2 separate regions of the Homo sapiens genome follow, and region 1 is linked to region 2. Evidence: fine-mapped expression QTL. A gene starts in region 2. The other region holds a variant in brackets. All regions are shown on one strand. Distances are from middle to middle.

The links. PIP is the estimated chance that this variant, and not a neighbour inherited with it, causes the effect.
Region 1: its variant is the best candidate, but not a certain one, in a credible set for the expression of MFAP2 in hippocampus (GTEx, PIP 0.77).

What each region holds. Positions count from the first base shown.
Region 1 is chr1:17,001,296-17,009,875 of GRCh38, forward strand. ATP13A2 (ATPase cation transporting 13A2) reads right to left here. Exons shown (of 29, transcript NM_022089.4): 2 at 4,389-4,483; 3 at 4,079-4,261; 4 at 3,719-3,777; 5 at 3,397-3,526; 6 at 3,037-3,116; 7 at 1,001-1,078; 8 at 739-808. Among named protein-coding and RNA genes, the nearest start is that of ATP13A2, 6.3 kb to the right of the region's middle. The variant A/G (reference allele first, on the strand shown) is at 3,886.
Region 2 is chr1:16,975,823-16,984,402 of GRCh38, forward strand. MFAP2 (microfibril associated protein 2) reads right to left here and starts at 4,798. Exons shown (of 9, transcript NM_002403.4): 1 at 4,765-4,798; 2 at 2,415-2,492; 3 at 1,287-1,376; 4 at 1,075-1,101; 5 at 886-972; 6 at 679-723. The coding sequence starts at 2,451. It overlaps LOC105376806 (a long non-coding RNA gene), which reads left to right and starts at 39. Exons shown (of 2, transcript XR_947003.3): 1 at 39-740; 2 at 1,847-1,973. RefSeq lists enhancers at 2,560-3,065, 3,066-3,573, 3,574-4,079.

The DNA.
Region 1 (8,580 bases), 25 kb after region 2:
CAGGCGCCTGTAGTCCCAGCTATGTAGGAGGCTCAGGCAGGAGAATCACTTGAACCCAGGAGGTGGACATCGCAGTGAGCCGAGATCACGCCATTGCACTCCAGCCTGGGCAACAAGAGCAAAACTCTGTCTCAAAAAAAAAAACAACAAACAAAAAACAAAAAACCACATAGCTTCTAAGTGACAGACTGATTTCTATGGGGCCAGACTCAAAGATCTCTTTCATGGTGCCTGCCCCCGATCAGAGGGCTGGGATGTTCACACTTTATTCTAGTTGTGTCCAGGTCACTGGCTTCTCTTTGTCCCTGTGTGACCTTGGCCATGTCACAGCCTCCAACTGAAGCTTGGATTTCTCAGGTGTGAACAGTGCAGTCCCAGGCCCAACCCACGGGACTGTTGGGAGCATGAAAGTGGAGGACGCACAGAGAGGACCCAGGCTCTAGGGCGTGTCTCTGGGGACCCCATAGATGCTCAGGCTGCGTGGATTTGCCTCTTGGCCTCCAATCCCTATGAGTGGGGCCCCAATCTGTGACCCAAGCCTTGGGCAGAACCTCCAATTCCTGGACCTGGTCTCTCTGGCTAGGCTGACTGCGGCAGGTTCTGAGATGACGATCCACTATGGAGAAGGGGACAGCTGGTCTGGTTGCCACCGTAAAGTGGCCCAGAGGAGGCAAGCCCTGGGCCAAGGTCACACAGCACGCCAGGCAGGGCTGGGGCAAGACCCAGGGACAGCCCTACCTCGTCCACCAGCAGCTGGGGGTAGGACTTGACCGGTATGCTGATCACGTTGGGGCCGTAAATGGCCTTCCTGGAAGAGGGGATGAGGCCAAGCCATCAGAAGGAGGAGCTGTGGCTGGACCCTCCCGGGGTGAAGGAGCTCCCCACTTTCAGCTGGGGGAACTGAGGCCCAGAGAAGGCAGGTGACTGGAAGGCAACCACATTGGGGGGCAACACAAGGAGCCCCAGTTCTCAGGGCACCCCGGTCCAGGGCAGCACTGACCTCACCATTTGGTCCTGGAGGCTGAGGCCATGGCGGGAGCGGTGGACGTCGTCACAAGAGCGGCCATGGTCCAGGAGGCTGGGGGTGGGTGCGAGGGGACACGCATGGGCCATGGGGCCTGAGGTCTGCATCCCCCACCCTGTGCAGGCTGGAGACTATGGGCTCTAGGCCCCCCATCCCCGTTCTGCCACACTGAGCTCCTGGGAGCAAGTAAGCCCCCTTGAACCCAAGGCTTGGCTTTGCCCTTTTGTTCCTCTCACTGGGTTCCAAACCAAGTCACTGAAGAAGGAGAACAGCGAGAGATGATGCTAATAATATGAACAGTGAAAAGAGTAGCTGTTATTTAGTGATAAGGGCACTATTTACACTGATGATACCCTGGGCAAGTCACTTAACCTCTCTGTGCCTCAGTTTTCTCATCTGCAAAATGGGGGCAGTGACAGCACCTACCACATAGGGCCATGGGTAGATTAAGTGGGGCAAGCCTCGGGGACTGCTTTGGACGTGCCTGCCACTTGCTAAGTGATGAATGCACGGGTGATTTTTGCTATTATCCCCATCATGCAGCAGAGGCTGTTGCTGCCATCCCCATCTCCCCTCTGCCTCACCTCCACATGACAGCTGGACCCTGAAAACACCTGTCTTTACCTGAGGCCTTCTGGCTGCATGTGAATCCCCTGCCTGTGAGCCCGGAAAGCGTGGAAGACTTTGTGTCCCGTGACTGATAATGGCAGGGAATTTGATGGTAACTGTCCTCACTCCCTGTGTGAGGTCGCCCAGAGGTGTGTGGTCTACGCTGGCCCAAGGAGATCCCCAGGCGACTGAAGTCCGGGTGTCCACAGCTGTGGCAGCCAGCATAACCTCCCTCCGTGCTTCCATCCCTTCCCCAGCACTGCCTGGGATCAGCTTCAAAACAAACTCCCTGCCCTTGAGCCCTTGTCTGGGGGTCTGCTTCTGCGGCATTCAAACTAAAGTGTGTGAGCAGGGCCCGGTGGCTCATGCCTGTAATTCTAGCACTTTGGGAGGCTGAGGCGGGTGGATCACCTGAGGTCAGGTATTTGAGAACAGCCTGGCCAACATGGTGAAACCCCGTCCCTACAAAACATGCAAAAATTAGCTGGGTGTGGTGGCATGCACCTGTAATCCCAACTACTCGGGAGGCTGAGGCAGGAGAATCGCTTGAACCCAGGAGGCGGAGGTGCAGTGAGCCGAGAATGCGGCATTGCACTCCAGCCCGGGCAACAAGAGTGAAACTCCATCTTAAAAAACAAACAAACAAACCAAAAAAACCACACACACACACACACACACACACACACACACACACATACACACAAACTAAGGTGTGTGGTGAGCTTGTGTTTCTTTTTCTTTTTTTTTTTTTTTGAGATGGAGTCATGCTCTGTCATCCAGGCTAGAGTGCAGTGGCGCGATGTTGGCTCACTGCAACCTCTGCCGCCCAGGTTCAAGCGATTTTCCTGCCTCAGCCTCCCAAGTAGCTGGGATTACAGGCACATGCCATCACGCCCAGCTAATTTTTGTGTTTTTAGTAGAGATGGGGTTTCAGCATCTTGGCCAGGCTGATCTTGAACTCCTGACCTCGTGATCCACCTGTCTTGGCTTCCCAAAGTGCTGGGATTACAGGGGTGAGCCACCGCACCCAGCCTGAGCTCATGTTTCTTAAGCCTTTTGTAGGTGGCAGAGCAGTGACTAAACCCCAAGCAGACAGTCTGAGTACAGAGCTGATAGTCTGATTCACAGTGGTGTCACAACCTCAGATCACATTCGGTGCCAAGCTCTACATAAATTATTATCTATTTCACCATCAAAACAATCCTAGGAGGCAGAAGTTATCTTCATGCCCTATTTATAGACAGAGATCCCAGGCCTGGAGGGGCTCAGTAACCTGCCCAAGGTTTCAGACAGCAAAAGCATCAGAGCTGAGAGGGGAGCCCAGGCCATGCCATGCCACCGTCTGTGCCCAAACCAGTGCCACTCTGGGAGGTGACATGAGCCACACAGGCCCTGACTCCTACCTGACCTGGTAGAAGGCTTGCTGGGTCTCGATCCAGATATAGCGCTGGCCCTGGAAGAGGTAATACCGCAGCACCCGCTTCTGGGTGGGAGAGAGGAGAGGATGGGTTGGAAGCTGGCCCCGGCCCCAGAAGCAGTGTGCTTATGCTGGGAGCCGAGGGATGGGGGTAGGGGGCAGGGACTGGTGTCACCAGACAGAGAGGTGGGGAGAGGCCTGAAAGTGTAAACGTGCTCAGACAGCATCCTGGATGTTTGGGACAACAGAACTAAAAGGTGGTGGGAGAACATGAAGTCTGACTCTCCCATTGCACAGATCATGAAACCGAGGCCGAGAGAGGGGCAAGGACTTTTTCAGAACCCACCTGTCCGACACTCACCGCCTCCTCGCTCTTGTGGAGCTGGGCCGTATCCTTCCAGGCACCCTCTGGTACCGCCCCAACTGCCGCCTGGCTCCGGCCATCCTCTGCCTGGGACTGTGGGGACGGCTCCAGGCTGGGGAAGCAGGTGAGGGTTACTCTCGAGCTCTGGGAGCTGCCCTGGCACCTCCCTGTGCTCACAGAGCCATCTTCCCTCCCTAGGATGGGAGGCGCCAGAGTCAGCCTTTATGGGGGGGCCGAGGGTTGGGGAAGTTGGGGAGGCCAGGGTAGCAGGGGCTTCTGGGAAGGGGCAATGGGGCTGCCTCACCTGCCCTCGCCGATGGCCTCAGTCTGCACCTGGACAGTGAAGAGCTGCCAGGAACTATCCTGGAACACAGAGGTATGGACTCAGTCTCAGAAGAGTCCCCTCCCCTCCCAGGCCCTGTCCTACAGCCAGGCGGCCCCTGCTGGAGAAGGCAGAAATCAAGGCTATGG[A/G]GAGCCCTCCAGAAACCACCCGACCCGTCCCTTCTGCCCAATGCTCAGATGGGAAAGCTGAGGTCCAGAGAAGAGCGGGACCTGCCTAATGTCCCATGGAAAGTCAGTGGCCGGGTTGGCACCCAAGCATCCTCCACCCCCGACCCTGACCCTCACTGCGCTTCTCTAGCCCCAGGCTCAGCCTGACTCTCACCTCTTTGTCTCTTATTTCGATAACGAGTGTTTCGGCGTGGGCCAGGTTGCAGGGCCGGAGCCGCAGCCGCACCCCCCACAGGGGCTTCCAACGGAAGAGCAGCAAAGGGATCCCAGCCATCATCCAGACCACGACGTGATAGCCGATGACCCTCCATGGACTGCCACAGTAGCCGCTGAGCCTCTGCGAACGCAGCGAGAGAGGGCCCAGGTCGGGGTGGGAACGGGGCTGGAGTAGGAAGTTGGGGTGTCTGGGTGGGCCTGGGCATTCACCCCCTGCAGCTTTTCCCCACCCCACTCTGCCCACTTACCACGGATGAAACTGAGGAGCTGAGGGGATCTATTGATGTCCCTATCGTCAGGGTCCCATAACCGGTGGGCGTGCTGCCCACGAGAGGGCTGCTGTCTGTGGACAGAAAAGAGAAAGGTCATTTGGGGAGGCACCTTCTCCTCTTGCTTCCTTAAAAACAATAAACATCAGCCTGGGCGCGGTGGCTCACGCCTGTAATCCCAGCACTTTGGGAGGCCGAGGCGGGTGGATCACCTGAGGTTAGAAGTTCGAGATCAACCTGGCTAACATGGTGAAACCCATCTCTACTAAAAATAAAAAAAATTAGCCGGGCGTGGCAGCGCGTGCCTGTAATCTCAGCTACTCAGGAGGCTGAGGCAGGGGAATCACTTGAACCTGGGAGGTAGAGGTTGCAGTGAGGCAAGATCACACCACTGCACCCCTGCCTGAGCAACAGAGTGAGACTCCATCTCAAAAAACTAAACAAAACAAAACACAAAACAGTAAGCACCTGGTCTGACAGAGCCCAAAGCTCATGTCTTCCTGTGTCCTTTATCTGGCTCTTCTTTCCGTCGGTTCTTACTTACCGTATCTTTTTTTTTTTTTTGAGACGGAGTGTCACTCTGTCACCCAGGCTGGAGTGCAGTCACTTGATCTCAGCTCACTGCAACCTTTGCCTCCCAGGTTCAAGCGATTCTCCTGCCTCAGCCTCCCGAGTAGCTGGGATTATAGGCATGCACCACCATGCCCAGCTAATTTTTGTATTTTTAGTAGAGATGGGGTTTCACCATGTTGGCCAGGCTGGTCTCGAACTCCTGACCTCAAGTGATCTGCCCACTTTGGCCTCCCAAAGTGCTGGGATTACAGGCATGAGCCACCGTGCTTGGCCAGTAGTGTCTTGTTTCCTTGCGTGTGTCGGTCTTTCTGCTGGGTATGGCCCAGAATTGGAGAATGGGGCCTGGACAGTGCCCCAAGCCCCCATGGTGCTCGTGCATCCAGCCATTAGCTTCCTTGGAGCTCTGGGTCTCACTTTTCTATCCTCATCCAGTCCCCACCCTGAGGGCAGGGGTCAGGGATGCTTATCTTCATTCCATGCCCGTGCCCAGCCCAGGTCTGGCAGTGAGGAGATGCAAAGTCAAGTCTGGACTAATAAACGGTCAGCCCTGCAGGCCTATCTTTACAGATGGGTAAACTGAGACTTGGGGAATGGTATCAGGTGGTTCTATTGCAGATATTCTTTTTTTTTTGAGATGAAGTCTTGCTCTGTCGCCCAGTCTGGAATACAATGGCATGATCTCGGCTCACTACAACCTCTGCCTCCCAGGTTCAAGCGATTATCCTGCCTCAGCCTCCCGAGTAGCTGGGATTACAGGCGCCCAGCTAAGTTTTGTATTTTCAGTAGAGACGGGGTTTCACCATGCTGGTCAGGGTGGTCTCAAACTGCCGACCTCAGGTGATCCACCCGCCTTGCCTCCCTGAGTGCTGGGCTGACAGGCTGAGCCACTGCGCCCGGCCACAGACATTCTTTTCACTCCTTCCTCCTGTGCTGTAGAGCTGTGGCCTTAGCAGGGCAGGCAGCCAGTGGATGTTCTGGGGCTCCAGAGCGGGTAGAGCTCACCAGCCCCACCCTTGGACAGCCTCTGTCAGGGTTCATCTACGGTCCCAGACCACCTGGAGCACCTTTTACATATGCAGATGCCAGGGCCCTCCCCAGACTGGCTGGATCAACTCCTCAGGCCGGGGTAGGGATGGTGCTAGGCATCTGTGGTTTCACAAGAGCCTCTGAAAAAGCTCACTAAGCTGGAAAAGCTGGGCGGGTGCGGGGTAGGCTGCTGATTTTCTGGGCTCCCTCCTTCATCCCCCAATCTGAGCCCTTCTAAAATTTTTCCTTTTTTTTTTTTTTTTTTTGAGAGCGAGTCTCGCTCTGTCACCCAGGCTGGAGTGCAGTGGCGCGATCTCGGCTCACTGCAAGCTCTGCCTTCCGGGTTCACACCATTCTCCTGCCTCAGCCTCCCAAGTAGCTGGGACTACAGGCGCCCGCCACCACGCCCGGCTAATTTTTTGTATTTTTAGTAGAGATGGGGTTTCACCGTGTTAGCCAGGATGGTCTCGATCTCCCGACCTCGTGATCCGCCCGCCTCGGCCTCCCAAAGTGCTGGGATTACAGGCGTGAGCCACAGCGCCCGGCGAGCCCTTCTAAAATTTCTACCCAAAGAGTCCAGAGTGCCCCAGGCAGCTGCTGTGGGCACAGCACCCCCAGCCTCTGAGCAGCCCCATCCCCAAGCACTCTGGCTTCAACACTCCTAGAGGGCTCACTGTGCACAGGGTACATGGCTAACGTATCAACCCTGCCAGGTAACCTCGGTTGTGATGTCCTTTCATTCATTCATTCATTCATTTATTTACTTATCACTCTTGTAGCCTCGGCTTCCCAAAGTGCTGGGATTACAGGCGTGAGCCACCATGCCCAGCTTACAGTTTTCGTGTATAAGTCTTTTTTTGAGACAGTCTCTCTCTGTCACCCAGGCTGGAGTGCAGTGTTGCGATCATAGCTCACTGCAGCCTTGACCTCCCAGGCTCAAGCAATTCTCCCACCTCAGCCTCCAAATAGCTGGGACTACAGGCACAGGCCACCATGCCCAGCTAATTTTTTTTGTAGAGACAGGGTTTTGTCTTTTTGCCCATCATTTGTTCCTAAGAATTTCTTTTTTGATGCTGTGTTTCATACAGCAAGTGCCTTTGCCTCTCTGGGCTTCCATTTCTCATCTCTAGGATGATAGTCCCGAAGCATCCAGCACACAGGGAGGTAGAAGCATTTGAAGTTCCTGGGGGGGTTGCGTGGACAGGTGGGCAGGACCCGGCTCCCAGGTCAGGGGGGCGTGGCTTCTGCTTATCCATTTCCCAGGCTCTCTTCTCCTTTCACATCACCCTGTCTGAAGCCCTGGCTGTCCCACGGCTCCCTAGGCCCATTCAACAGTTGCTCCTTGTACCTTAAAACCCTCAGGCCGGCCGTGCGCAGTGGCTCACGCCTGTAATCCCAGCCCTTTGGGAGCCCAAGGGGGGCGGATCACGAGGTCAGGAGGTGGAGACTAGCTGAGACCATCCTGGCTAACACGGTGAAACCCTGTCTCTACTAAAAATATAAAAACCAAATTAGCCGGGCGTGGTGGCAGGCGCCTGTAGTCCCAGCTACTTGGGAGGCTGAGGCGGGAGAATGGTGTGAACCCAGAAGGTGGAGCTTGCAGTGAGCTGAGATCACGCCACTGCACTCCAGCCAGGGTGACAGAGCAAGACTCAAAAAAAAAAAAAAAAACCCTCAGGCCAACAGCCCAGCGGGCTCAGGGATGATGGGAAAGGAGCCATCCCTGCGGTGCTGATTTGATTTCCTCCCGCACCAACCCACAAGGTGGGCTCTCTTACCCAGTTTGACAAACGAGAGCACTGAGCCTCTGGGGCAGTTGCCCTCAGACTTGTCTCAAAGCTGGAACAGGGCTGGCCTTACTCCCAGGTCCTCTCTGCCCAGCACATCTACTCCTGACATTCCCCTCAGCATCAGGCTCAGATGGGTGTCACTGCCCTTACTGCTCACAGTACCTGCCATGTGCTCAGGGGTCAGGAAACACTGATTGACCGACTGACTGAATGAATGAATGTCTGTCTCTTGGACACAACAGAGCTTGAAGGCAAAGGTGCTGGGAGTTGGGGGGAGGGGCTTGAGCCTCTTCCTTTTTTTTTTTTTTTTTTTTTTTAAAAGAGACAGGGTCTCACTCTGTCACCCAGGCTGGAGCACAGTGGCATGATCCTAGCTCACTGGAGCCTTGACCTCCTAGGCTAAAGGAGGTACTCTTGCCTCTGCCTCCCAAGTAGCTGGCACTACAGGCAGGTGCCACTGCACCAGGCTAATTTTTTTTTAGTAGGGACAGGGTCTCATTTTGTTGCCCAGGCTGATCTTGAACTCCCGGCCTCATGCTGATCCTCCTACCTCAGCCTCCCAAAGTGCTGGGATTACAGGTGTGAGCCACCACACCCGGCCTCAAGACTCTTTATGAAGAAAAGGTTCTTCAAAAAGAGGGCAGAGTCCCCAGTATGTAAACAGCGGTCCCCCTGGGAAGTTCTTCCTCATGGCAATCGTATGACTGTCACTTCACAATGACACTCTCTCAGTCAACCTTGGCAAAGAGGAAAAGGGGAGTGGAACTTGAGGGAGGAAGTCA
Region 2 (8,580 bases):
CTGTACCTTCAGGCCCCGTGCAGACACCCATACCTACACATGCCCACATAGACCCACGCAGCATTGTCAGACTTCCCAGGGCTGTAATATTCACGTATCAATTCACAACCGCACTTACTATAGAAGCCTAAGTTCAAACAGAAATTTGCACCCACCCATGCATCGCCACAAAAGCCCATACCAACTCCCGAGCAGACGTGCCCACGCTCACAGAAGCCCACATAGGAGCGCTCACACCAACCCACACGAGAGTGAGCACACGGATTCTCCTGCACACACACACCTTGTTCTTTCAAGCTCTCAGCTAGGGCAGCCGGAGGGCACCGCTCAGCCAGCCTGCACTCCCTGGCCCTTCCTCGCCTCCACATGTGCACCACTCAGTCTCTCTGGCTGGCAGGAAGCCCCCAGCACACTCCCTGCCCCTCCCAGTATCTGTGAGGTCAGGGGCCTTCCTAGGCTGCCAATTTAGCCTCCAGCCAGGCACACTGGGGACAGGTGGGACCTCCTGGAGCTGCCTGGGGGGCCTGGTGATGCCAGCCTACGGCAGTCATACTGCCCACACTGCCAAGAGCCCACATGGGCAAGGGCCAAAGACCTCCAGCCCACCAGCACCACCCCCTACTCCACCCCAACTTCAGGGCGTGCCTCCATTTTTCCAGCTGTCAAGAAAGCCCTTACCAAGAGGCCCAGGCTCTGTGGGCTCCAGCTCTGCATTTCCTGGTTCTGGTGTGGAGACAGAGGTAGGCAGACATCACTGGGAGGGGTCTCCTCAGGGCAAGGGGAGTCACCTCTCCCAGCCCTGGCAGACCCCCACTCCCAGGGTTGACAGGGTGGGGAGGGGTGAGGCAGGAGCTGAGACGGGTGGGAGCAGGGTCTGGGGCCTACCTGGGGTTGGGGCTGGGATGACTTCCTGTTGGACTTGCTGCTGGGACTGGAACTGGAACTGTTCCTCGGAGGGCCGAGGAGTCACCTCTGCAGCCAGGGGAGGATAAGGGGGTCTGCTCCCTCTACCCCTCCCAGGGGGTCTCCCCACCCCAGCTGCCGGCCCGTCCTATCCTACCCCTAGCCCGTTACCTTGATAATCATAGTAGTCTGGGTTGTCTGCAAACAAAGATGAAAGTGGAATTGGTGGGAGTAAGGCTAATCCCCCAGCCCCTGGGGCAAACAAGTTCCCTCCTGAGCCAGGGACCAACCCCCAGAGTTCCCATCAGCGTGTCCAGTGCGGTCCCTGGCTGAGCCAGGCACATCTGAGCAGCCAGGCCTCGGTGACCCGGCAAGGCCCTTACCGATCTGGTCGCTATAGTGGGTGTACTGGACGTGGTCAGGGAACGGCGGCAGCGGGTCCAGGTCATACTGGCCCTGAGCCAGCAAGCCTGCTGTGGGGAGGCAAAGCATGTAGGGTACCCCATCGGGAGGGGCAACGGGGGCCCGAGGCGCTTCTGGAGAGTGGAGGCGGGGGTCACAAGGTCAGGCCCATAAGAGCCTAGGACCCCACAAGCAGATTCCTAGAGGATCCAGACTCTTCTTCGATGGTAAAGACCCTTCCCCACCCTGGTCATGGGTCACCTCCCTGACCTTACCCTGCCCCTTCCTGTTGCTGGCCTCCTGGCTGCTCCTAGGACTCCACATGCTCCTGCCTCCCTCAGAGCCTTTGCACCTGACACTCCCTGGGCCTGTGAGGCCTGCTCAGCTCCTTCAGGTCTTCCCTGGAATTTCAGCTGTGCCAAGATGCCGCCCCACCTCCAGCCCACCAGCCCTCCTGCTGATTTCTGTCCAGCACTCAGCACATGCTGGAGTTTCTCATGTCTGCTTGTTTCCTATTTGTCTCCCTTCCCTGGACTGGCAGCATGATGAGGAGCAACGATGTGTCTGCCTGGTTCATCGCTGAATCCCCAGGGCCTAGCCCAGCACTTGGCACGTGGTAGGGACTCAACACATCGCTGCTGAATGAATGAATGTTGGCCCTGCTAGGACTTTTGTGGTCCTCATTGATTCTCTTCATTTGGCCAGTAGGGACCCCCACAAGGTCAGGACTGTATAGAGCAGAAGGGCCCTGAATGGATCTAGAACTCAAGCATCCGGACTCCCTGCCTTGGGTGCCCCTGCACCTGCACATCGGCTCCCAGAGAGGCCTTGTGCCTTGTGCCCACGGAGTCCTTGTGCCTGGGACGTGCCCTCCAGAACCCTGCCTGCCTGCTGCTGTGGAAGGCTGGGGGAAGGGCCAGGAGCTGCCTCCAGATGCTGCCAGGGTTGGCTGGTCCAGTCTGTGGTCCAAGCAGGCAGAAGGCCCTGGGAGCTGGGGAGCTGAGTTCTGGTCATAAGTCGTGACAAAGGCTCACTATGAATTCCCCCTACTAACCCTACTCCTCAGCCCCACATAAGAGGAGCTACCCCCTGCCCCAGGAGCCACTTACCAGGCAGGAATAGCAGGAAGAGGTAGGCAGCTCTCATGGCAACAAAGAGGCAGGCCGGGGTGGTGTCAGAGAGGACAGCTGGGGAAAGACCGGTGGGAGAGCTCTACCCAGGGCCACACCCAGGACAGCAGAGCTCACCTTTGATCCCCTGATTTCGCCCTGGAGAAGGTGGCACCCAGAATAGAAGCCAGGCATGGGAGGGCTGGAGTGGAGGGACATCCCAGTCCCTGCTGGCCCACCCAGGTGTTCAGGTCACAAGGGACAAGGCCTCCAACCCAGCTCCAGGGCTGATCCTGACAAGCAAACCCCGTGTAGTGGGTGTACTTGATGTGGTCAGGGAAGGGCGGACCCTGCCCTGCTCACTAAGGGGACATTCCTAATGTGCTCCCAGCCCAGGCCATTCTGTCCTCACCCACACCCGTGCTCAGCCCTCTGGCCCAGTGGCTCCCTGGGTGTCCAAGGCACTGACTGCGTGAATCACTGAACCCAGGCCCATCCTTGGGACCCCAGCCCTGGCCAGCCGGCATCACCGCCTGGACTCAGCAGCTTCTGCCAAGCCACCACCTGCTCCCAATTAGCCCCTGGGCCCTAAGCATCCTGCTCAGCAGGAAACCACATACACATGGGCCTGCCCGGCCCCCAGAGCGGCCAGGCCGGGCAGGGCTCCCAGCTCCCAGAAGACTCCTCTCCTGCCAGGCCTCCAGGCCTCGCAAGACCTGGCTGTGTGCATCACAGGCTCACGAGACCCGGGCTATTTGCAGCAGCAGGAAGCACGAGAGTGAAGCCTGAGGGGGCTCCTCTGGATCCCAGAAAGGCAGCACTGAAGGGGCCGTGACATCACCCAGGCTGGGGGTTCTGCACCCCCTGACACTGTAGGCAAGTGTGTGTGTCATTTGGAGGGAGAGGGCATGGGGTCCGTGGCTTTCATCAGGCTCCTGACATTCAAGAGCCCAGCCTCCAGTCCTGGCTACACGGTGGGACTTGGGGGAGCCTCCGGTTCCCCACATCCAGCCCCAGCTCAGTGGAGGGCCACCTCAGGTCCGTCAGCCTTCTGTAGGGAGGGCTGCGAGGGCGGGGTCCATCCAGGAGGGCCCCTCCCGGCTGCAACCCAGGAAGTCCTTTCAGAGAGCTAGCTGGAAACCCCAACTTTGGTCTATTTTCCCCACTGGGAGTCCAGGGAGAGGGGAGGGAAAGGGGAGAAAGCAGGAGGTCTTTCCCTCCTTCCTCTCAATCCTGAGGCCTCCTGACCCCCTGGCTCCTCTCATGCATTAGGCACCTCACTAAGGTGGAGTGGGAGCCGGGAGACGAAGCTCAGGACCAAGCTGCCCCAGAGGCGAGGGATAGCTGGCTCCCCACACCCCATTCTGAAAACCCTTGACCTCCTCATGGGAGGGGGATGAAAAGACCCAGAGAGCCTTCCTTGCCCTTCTCCCCATCCGTCAGGTCGGTCGGAGCCCCCGCTGCTCAGCAGAAGGCGCTGAATTGGGGCAAGAGGGGTTGCAAGGTGTTGGGGGATGCCTGTCGGTACCCTGCGGGGAGTCTTCCTCCCCTAGGACTGGCCCCCGAACCCAGGCTTATTGGGGGAAGGAGGCCCACGGGCTAGCGGGGAGGCAGGAAAGAGAGAAGTCAGTGTGGAGTTCATGAACTCCTCCCACGGGACCACATCTCCGAGCTCTTCTAGACGAAGGGGTTTTGGGGCGTGCGGGAGGCCAGGACCTGCCTGGGAGGCTGCCCCACCCCCACCTCTGGCCTCTTCCACAGCTGCGGCCTCCCCCACCCCCGACTCCCCTGCGTCCTGGGAGGTGGGGGACAGGGGGCCCCGACGCTCGCTCAGACATCAGACGGAGGGAGGGCTCTGCCGGCTCCAGAGCCGGGCTCAGGGGGAGGGGTCCCGGCGGGAGAAACCCAGATGTTGCAGCGCCGCACAGCTGGGAACAATCAGCCGCGGAAACTTGCTCCGCGCGCCCTCGCGCTCCCGTCTCTGATCTCTCTTTGTCTCTCTGCGTCTCTGTCTCGGCCATTCCCACCGGACCCCCCCCCCCCACCCCACCCGCCACATTCCAACCTCCCCGGGAGAACAAAAGATGTCCCATCCCCCGACGACCTCACCTCTGGCTCCCCCCAAACTCGGGCTCCCCGCCCTTCCCAATTCGCGTTCTCTCTGCAGAGCAACCCCAAACTTTCCAGGTGCCCCCTTGGCCTCCGCTCTGAAGGCGCGGGGTTCAGGAACCTCCGCGGCTGCCCCAGGATCGAGGACCCAGAGAGCCTGGCACCCTCGCCCCCGCGCCGGGGGACCCGCCGACGCCCCTGACCGCCCCCCGGGGCCCCCAAGCGCCAGGCCCGCGCCTACCTGTCCGGGTCACTCCGCCGCCCGCTCCGAGTCCGCCCGCCGGAGCCGCCCCTTGGCCCGCTCCGAGTCCCCCTCCGGGCCCCCGACGGGGCTGGCGCCCGCCCTCCAGCCCCGGAGCCGCTGGGTCCTAACGCGAGCTGCCCGCATGGGCCGCCACGCCGTGCCCTCGGGGTTCCATCTCCTGGGGGGGGGGGTGTCCCCGGGGTAGAGGCGCCCGGGGCCGTCCTCACGTCTGTGCAAAGCTTCCTCCTCCTCACAGCTGCTCCTCACTCGACGTCGACGGGGTGAGGGGGGTGAGGTGGGCAAGGGTAGGTGTGTTGCCCATTTCACAGAGGAGGAAATCAAGCCTCCCAAAGTGACTCACCCTAGGCCCCTCAGCCAGAAAGTAAGCCTCGATCTCCCTCTGCCTTCTCCCAGCTTCCAGGACACTCTCCTGCCTTGGTTTTCCTTCTGCCTCTCCAGCCAAGCCTGCTGCCTCTCTCAGGCCCGCACCCTCCTCTCCTACACTGCTGAGCTCTGGGCCATGGCTGGCTTCCACAACCAGCGGTTCTTTCTTTCCTTTTCTAGAGACAGGGTCTTGCTGTGTTGCCCAGGCTCGTCTGGAACTTCCGGCCTCGAAATTTTGGCCTCAAGCATTCCTCCTGTCTCATCCTCCTGGGCTGTTGGGATTACAGGCATGAGTCCCTGCCCCCGGCCATAACCAGCACCTCTTTCAGCCCTGACCCAGCCTATGTGTCCCACAAATGTCCTCAAGATGCATCAGCTTCAACAAGCATCCAAGTCCAAATTCACGACCTCCTAACTCTCCCCCAGACCTGGCCCTCCAGGATTCCCAGTCCCCCCTTGGCCCCGCAGCCTTCCATTACCCAGGCTTCCTCCCCTGCCCTTAGCCCTGCATCTAATCCAGCACCCACCCGTGAATGCTACCTGAAAAATTTCTTTTGTGACTCCGTTCACTGCTCCCACCCTGGCCTAAGCCACTGTGAGACCAAGTTGCAATCCCAAGAAACCGCATTTGCTCTTTCTGCTTGTCAGAAGCTGACAAAGCCCTGACTCAGTGACTGGGGGCAGCCCAACGGAAGGATGCCTTGAAGATGGCAGGCAGGGCAGAACACAGGCTCCCACGCCTCTTGCCTGAATCACTGCATTGTTAGAAAATATAAGTTAAATGATCCTGGCTGTGCCTTTTCCTGTACATAAGATAGCACCTGACAGGATTGACGATTATGCCTCTATAATCTATATAACTAGGTGCATCCTCGAACCCAAACCTTGGCGAGATTTGCACTAGTGTAGCTTCTGAAGACATTTGATGTAAATTTTTCTTCTTCTTTTTTTAATGAGACCGGGTCTCGCTCTGTCATCCAGGCTGGAGTGCAGTGGCACCATCACAGCTCACCTCTTGGGCTCAAGTGATCCTTCCACCTCAGCCTCCCAAGTAGCTGGGACTACAGGCAAGAGCCGCCATGCCTGGCTAATTTTTTTTTTTTTTTTTTTTTTTTGTATTTTTTGTAGAGAAGGGGTTTTGCCGTGTTTGCCCAGTCTGGTCTCAAACTCCTGAGCTCAAGCAATCCACCCGCCTCAGCCTCCAAAAGTGCTGGGATTACGGACGTGAGCCACCGTGCCTGACCATAGCTTCTGAGCACACACAGAACCGCCTGCCTCTGTATCTAAACTGTGGGCTGAAATGCTGCTTTGGCGCAGTCTAACAGAAACTCTCTGAAACCCTCTCCCAGGGTGCAGTCCTCAGTAAGACTCAATAAAACTAACTTTAATTTTTTCAATGGCTGATTTTTTTTTTTTTTTTGAAATGGAGTTTAACTCTGTTGCCCAGGCTGGAGTGCAGTGGTGTGACCTCGGCTCCCTGTAACCTCCACCTCCCGGGTTCAAGAGGTTCTCCCAACCCAGCCTCTCGGGTAGCTGGGATTACAGGCACATGCCAGCATGCCAGGCTAATTTTTGCTTTTTTTTTTTGAGTAGAGACAGGGTTTCACCATGTTGGCCAGGCTCCTGACCTTAGCTGATCCGCCTGCCTTGGGTTCCCAAAGTGCTGGGATTATAGGCATGAGCCACTGTGCCTGGCCAAAAGGTGGATTTTTTCTTTTTCTTTTTTTTTGAGACAGGGTCTTGCTATCTCCCAGGCTGGAGTGCAGTGGTGCATCCTCAACTCACTGCAACCTCTGCCTCCTGGGTTCAAGCGATTCTCATGCCTCAGCCTCCAGAGTAGTGGGGACTACAGGCACCCACCACCATGCCTGGCTATTTTTTTTTTTTTTTTTATTTCTCGTAGAGACGAGGCTTCTCCATGTTGTCCAGGCTCGTCTCGTACTCCTGACCTCAGCTGATCCACCCACCTTGGCCTCCCAAAGTGCTGGAATTACAGGCGTGAGCCACTGCACCTGGTCAAAAGGCTGATTTCTTATTTAGTTGACACCACCATCATTTGCCTGGGCTCTGCGATAGCCTCCACTCTGGGCTCTCCCACGTGGGTCCTGCCTCCCTCACCCCCGCAGATCGTGCCCCTTCTACTGATCGCCTTTCACTCAGGTTAGAGGCTCAACTTCCCTGTGGCTTCCAGGGCCCCGGCCCTTTATGGCAGCCTGGCTCTGCCTCCTCTTCCTCCTCCAGCCACTGGCCTTTGGGGGTTTTCTCCCAAACCCCTCTCCCTCCCACACTGAGGCGTTTCTTCCTCCCGAGCACTGGCTGAGGTCTCCTCCATGGGGTCACAGATCAAACCCTCCCTTCCTCAGAGGGGCCTTCCCTTTTTCCTTTTTTTGTGCTTTCTAGCTTTACTGCTTGCAGTTGTCTTGTTGGCCTATGTCTGTGACCATCTGAGCCCTGTCCCTCTTCCCGATGAGACTGTCATCTTGCCCCGTGAAGGCCAGGACCAAGGCTGTTTTTGCTCATCTTCAGTTTTGCTCATTAAGTTCAGAGCCCGGCTCAGAGCAGCAGTTCAGCAAACATTGGTGGAATGAATGAGTGAACTGTACACTAAACTCTTCCCGGAGAAGCTGGCTGGGGGTGCAGATCCTCTGCGTGAGGGGCAGCCTTCAGCCCTGCCCAGGAGCCTAGGCCTGAGGCGGGAGTGAGAGTTGTAGGGGCTGCGGGCTGGGAGGAGATGAGGATGGCCCCTGATTTAGACCCTTGCCATCTGATCTCTTCATCGCCAGTCATTCCCCCACCTCCCTTAGACTCTGAGTCTTAGGGAGGGAGTAAATATGCCCTGTGCCTCCTTCATTCCCATGCCCCGCCCCCCAGTGTCTATTGCAGGGCAGCAGAGACTTTTGTCACCTGGAGAGAGGTGGGCCCTCAGGCCAGGCCAGCCCAGCCCTCTCTGCCTGCCCTTAGACCCCACTGCTGCCAGGAGCAATCCCACTGGCAAAAGAGAGGAACTCACCCAGCAGAAATGCTGTCCCCTACCCTTGAAAAAAGGAGGGAGGTTGGGTGCAGTGGCTCACACCTGTAATCTCAGCAGTTTAGGAGACCAAGGCGGGTGGACCGCTTGAGCCCAGGGGTTTGAGACCAGCCTGGACAGCATGGCAAAACCCCATCTCTACAAAAAATACAAAAATTAGCTGGGTGTGGTGGTGCTGGCCTATAGTCCCAGCTACTCAGGAGGTTGAGGTAGGAGGATCACCTGAGCCTGGGGAGGTAGAGGCTGCAGTGAGCCACGATTGCACCACTGCACTCCAGCCTGGGCAACAGAGCAAGACCCTGTCTGAAAAAAAAAAAAGAAAAGAAAAGAAAAACTGGGAAACTGAGGGGCTAAAGCTGACAATTCGTGTCCTGGCTCCCATGTCCTCTCTGCTGCTTCTA